Linked DNA regions of Homo sapiens: region 1 is linked to region 2. Evidence: fine-mapped expression QTL. Tissue or cell type: transverse colon. Region 2 holds a variant in brackets; the other region holds the start of a gene. All regions are shown on one strand. Distances are from middle to middle.

The links. PIP is the estimated chance that this variant, and not a neighbour inherited with it, causes the effect.
Region 1: NIPAL2 starts here. The variant in region 2 is fine-mapped to the expression of NIPAL2 in transverse colon (GTEx, PIP 0.96).

What each region holds. Positions count from the first base shown.
Region 1 is chr8:98,292,889-98,295,502 of GRCh38, reverse strand. NIPAL2 (NIPA like domain containing 2) reads left to right here and starts at 1,268. Exons shown (of 11, transcript NM_001321635.2): 1 at 1,268-1,500. The coding sequence starts at 1,366. The region is part of intron 5 of LOC105375659 (a long non-coding RNA gene); the gene reads right to left. RefSeq lists a silencer at 1,029-1,748.
Region 2 is chr8:98,183,640-98,186,396 of GRCh38, reverse strand. All of the region lies in intron 2 of NIPAL2-AS1 (NIPAL2 antisense RNA 1), which reads right to left. Among named protein-coding and RNA genes, the nearest start is that of NIPAL2-AS1, 8.5 kb to the right of the region's middle. The variant T/C (reference allele first, on the strand shown) is at 1,362.

The DNA of each region.
Region 1 (2,614 bases), 110 kb before region 2:
TTGGGCCCAGGAATATGAGGCTAAAGTGAGTCAAGATCACACCACTGCACTCCAGCCTGGGCAACAGAGCAAGACCCTGTCTCAAAAAATAAAATAAAATGTAATATAACAAATAGAGACCTTTTTCCTTCAGATATTTATTTGAAGTAAATCAGCCTCTTAAAATTGGGAATAGTTACCTACAATTGTTAGCTGTTCACTGAACATCTCGAGTGCTTAAGCAAGAAACTACACAATTTCTGAGACGACATGTCTTGTTTTTTCTGTATGTGAAATGACTTTTTCTCACTCTTTTCTCTCATTTGCACATTTCCCCTAAGAAACACTGAAAACTGTCCCTGCTCCCTTCTAGGCAGCAATTCTCTTTTCTTGAAGGTCTCTCTTTCATGAACTCATGGAAGTCAAAGCACATTATCTAAGAAAAACCTCAGCATTGTGTAAACAAAAGAAGGCAACTATCAGCCTTCAGGCAACAGTATAGAATCATGGTTTTTTTAAAGTGAGAAATACCCTACAGATCATTTGTGGTCACACATTAGAATTTGAATACAGGTAAAACCAGAACATCTCGTTAGAGTTCTTAAGATTAATAACAACATTTATCTTTCATCCTAAATTCATATATACAGTAGCTGGCAACTTTTCAGCAACTCCACCTGATCCCATCTGAAGCAAACCCAATCCAGTCATCGCACACTGGGGTCCTATGGCTACCACATTCCTCATTCAAGGAATATTTACTAAGGATCTATCAAGCACTGGCACTGAGATTCAATCGCTCGGATCTTTTTTTCTCATATTGCTTACAATATTTCTGGGAACTCATGACTTTTTCATATGCAATCAATTTTTAAAATATCGGTGAGAAACACTACATATGTGATAGAGGACTGGAATTGCCAGGTAGAGATGGGAGATGATAGCTGCTTTGGGTTAGTCAGTGTCTCCTCCTCTTCCATTGACTTGGACAAATGTTTACAACGGAGATGATCTGATTCTGGCCCCGACAGGCGCGGGGACCCGTTGCGGACGGCCGCGGGGATTGCCCCCTTGGGCAGTGCGGCCCCGAGGATGCAGACACTGGCCCAGCGGAAGGAGGGCGCGGTGCGAGCTGGACGGCCCCGGGAGGCCGCAGACCGCCGGGCTCCCCGAGGACACCTCGCACCGGAGGAGGAGAGGAGGCAGCGCCCGGCCAGGCTGGGAGCACCTACGGCCGCGCGGGGGCGGGAGCCAGGTGGCCTCGGCGCGCCCGCCTCGCCCGGGCACCGAGCAGGAAGTGGCTGCGGCGCGGCCTCCTCGCGGTGCAACAGGGCGGGGAGGCGGCCGCAGCCCGAGCCGGAGCCCGAGCGCCGGGAGCGAGACCTCATGGCAGCGGTGGCGCCCGCGGGCCCCGGGGACTCCGCCTCGGCCGCCCTGGACGAGCTGTCACTGAATTTCACGTACGGGGCACCAGGCGCCGGCAACGGCTCCCTCTCGGGCGACTGGTACCGCAGGAACCAGGTAAGGGCCGCCCCGCAGCCACCGCAGCCCGGTGGGGACGCGGCCAGGGCGGCTGGCTCCGGGCGCCTCTGCGCCTCGGCCGCTTTCCTGCCAGCTCTCAGGAAGACACCCGGCCTCTCCGAGTGGGAAGAGGTGACATGCAATGTTTCCCGCATTGACCTAAGTCCGCCTCATCCGGAAGCGCGGGGGTCCGCCCAGTCTTCCTCTCCCGGGCACCCGGCACTGGGAGTGGGCGCCCAGGTCTTCGGCCTTGACCTCAGCCACCCGTTCCTGGGACCTCCGGGTCCCGATCCCGCCTCCCCAGCCTGCGTCCGCCCTCTTCTCCCGGAAGGAATCTAGGAGTGTGGGGGCAATTCACTCATTTTCACCCCAGGATCCTTTTACAGTTAAAAGAAAAGAAAAAAGTGACACCCTGTTATCAGAAGCAGAAAACTCATTAAGGGCAGCCTAATGTCACCTCGCGCAGATGCCCTGCGTGTGTCCCTGGTATCTCAACACAGCTCTTCCATTTCCGTGCGAGGAACACATTTTCTCAGGTTGCATTTGCAGGACTCTCATTCTTTCCCACCGGCCCTTTGGGAAAACTTTGTTAACTTAAACAACGCCAGTTTACACTGGAAATATACATTTAACAAAATCAAAGGGACTTGGAGCCGCCCATTTATTTTTGGCTTGGTTTAAGATGAGGAAGTGTTCTGGCCAGCCCTTCCTCTAGCAGCGTTCATATTGCAACTAAGTTTTATCACGGTGGATTCCAGGCTTCCTCCTGTTTTCATTAAATGTGTTACTTTGTTCTTGTTCTTTAACAAAACCATGGATACTTTTATTTTTGCAACAATATAATCAGAAAATATTTGTTGCTGTTGTCCTAAATCGGAGAGTTTAACCAATTATCAAAGATCTGGATTCCTTTTATGCCTGAAGTGTTCTAAATATTAATTTCTGAATGCAGAAGAGAATATATTTGTATAAAGAATAAGTAAGATAAATAAGCATGTTCACTTTATTAGTTTTCAAGAGGGGAGAGTATTGCTTTAAGTCATTTCATCATAAAAGATATAAAAATAGGAAAAATGAGGGTACTCAGAGCCTCTTGATCAATGTTTGTAATCCA
Region 2 (2,757 bases):
CACCTATCCATGCACACTGGCAAATAACACTCAAAAACAACAACAATAAAACTCACCTATCAGAATTTAAGGGCTGGGCGCGGTGGCTCACGCCTGTAATCCCAGCATTTTGGGAGGCCGAGGCGTGTGCATCACGAGGTCAGGAGATCGAGACCATCCTGGCTAACACAGTGAAACCCCGTCTCTACTAAAAATACAAGACATAAGCCGGGCGTGGTGGTGGGCGCCTGTAGTTCCAGCTACTCGGGAGGCTGAGGCAGGAGAGTGGCGTGAACTTGGGAAGCAGAGCTTGCAGTGAGCTGAGCTGGTACCACTGCACTCCAGCCTGGGTGACAGAGTGAGACTCCGTCTGAAAAAAAAAATTTAAGGACGTTACTCCACATCTTCCTTAGGCAGTCACTCTCAGTATAAGATGGCATAAAAGATATTCAGGAAATAATGACTGAACTCTACTTTTGCATTTGTGGCTCATCACATCCTACCAGAAATGATCAAGCATAACGAGGCTATGAGCTGAACAGTGACCTCTGAGATGGCCTCGAGCAAAACAGCTGTCTCCAGAGAAGAATGGGCTGGGCCATCCAAAATCTCACTCTCCAGAACTTGGGGTGAGAGGCATGGAGACAGTCAAGGAGGTAGGAGTGGGAGCCGATACTGGAAGGCTTCCCAGAGAGATATAAAGGTACAAGGGGACCACAGAGGGCCTTGGCAAGCCAAGGTTAATAGTATACAAGGAAGAGTGAATCATGAGAGTAAATGAGCTAAGAGCCAAATCTGTTGGCAGAGACAGGGGAAGTAAGAAAATACTGCAAGGAAAACAAAGACTCTGAGAGAGGTGACCAGGAGAGCAAAGCCCAGGACCTGTTGCAGGTGTATAAAGTTCATGGCACACTTACAGTAACAGCCAACTCCCTCCAGCTGGCTGGAGAGACTCTTCCGAGCCACCAAAGGGCCTGAGTTCCATGGGAGTCACTGGGTTTCCAGAAGACAATAGATAGATCAGGCTGTTGGCACCAGACAGGGAAGGGATGAGTTCATTTGAGAAATACTTCATGAAAACCATCATTTCCAGTATTCACACTATGGTGCAGGACTGTTCAGTGAGAGTCCATAGTGGCAGGGGACAACCTTCAGATAGAAGATGGAAGAAAGTGGGCCCAAGAAAATGATCAGGAGTCCCTGGTGGATCCCAGGCCTAATCTTAATGAGCGGTATACCCTTATTTTTTAAAGGTATGTAGAGTACTCTCAATGCATGGTCACTGGATGACGGCTGAGGCATCTGCTGAGTGAGTATTTGTGTGTGTGTGTGTGTGTGTGTGTGTGTGTGTGTGTGTGTGTGTGTGTGTGTTGGGAGTGGGG[T/C]GCGATGATGCATAAAAAGACATTGAGGGAGCAGGGGACATACTGGGAACCCTTTTCAGTGTGGAGAGAAAGGTCAACTCCCTCAGCCACAGACAGGATAAAAATGGGGAGCACAACAGCAAAAGAGCCCTTTAAACACCTCCTTCCTTGACTCTCTGTCCACCTAGGAATGCAAATCTGAGCAGGTGGCTCTTAGGGCAAAACCAGAGAAATGAACCGGGTCGCGGGAGAAGAGGCGCCTCCAAGTAGCGCAGCCCCATCCCCTGGGCTCTCACCACCCCCAAGCTAGGAACTCCTGCACCAGGTTGTGGCTCCGCTGCTGTGCCTTGGAACAGGGTGGGCACCCCCACGGAACCTGGTACGCAATGGCCACCTTTCTCCTTTGGCTTGGGGGTCTCGGGGTGGCAACCTGGGACACTGCTGTCCGGAACATGACAGGGCCCACCCTGCTTCTCAGTCGCTAACAGGAAAACAGGATTCTGCAGGGGAGGACAGAAATCTGTCACCCGGGGCACAGGGCTTGCCTTGCTGGCCTTTCCACGGGCCTTCTCTAAAGCAAACCACCTGTTTCCTGCCCAGCATGGGCCTGAGCCTTCCAAGATGTCCGCAGAAAAGAAACGTGTCCAAACCACTGCTGAGGAATGACAGTCTTGGCACTGCCTCCAGTTATATTTGTTGTTCACTAAGGAGTTTTGTGGAATTCAGACTCATTTTCCACTGAAACAGGGGAAAGTAAAGACGGCACCAAATAAAAATAGCTTCCCGGCGTTTCCTGTTTACTCTGCTCTGCGGGCTTCCCACGGCCTGGGGGCTTCACTGGACGTCTGCACAGAAAGCCCCTCTCCAAAGAACACCGCAAGTGACGATTTGCTTTCTTCTTCTGTGTTTCTAACTCTCTTCCTTGTGTTCCACAGAAGTTTAGTTTGGGGGTCTGTTGGGTTAACTCCCAAGTCTCCTTTTTCTAGCCCTTTTTAGAGGGAGACAAGGTTGCAGGGTGTTTCTCTGCTTTCCACGGCCCTGTTCTCTCACAAAGTAGAGCCAATCATGTCCGGCCTGCTGGGCCTCAGAAGGAAGATGTAGGAGAAAGAGTAGGTGACACAAATATAAAAGGACTGTGGAGAGAGGGGCCCTGGCCAGGCACAGTGGCTCATGCCTGTAATCCCAGCACTTTGGGAGGCCAAGGTAGGAGGATCACTTGAGCCAAGGAGTTCCAGACCAGCCTGGGCAACACGGGGAGACCCCGTTTGTGCAAAAAAAAAAAAAAAAAAAATTAATTAGCCAGGTATGGTGGCACATGTGTGCCTGTGGTCCCAGCTGCTTAGGAGGCTGAGGTGGGAGGATCCCTTAAGCCTGGGAGGTCGAGGCTGCAGAGAGCTATGATCTCGCCACTGCACTC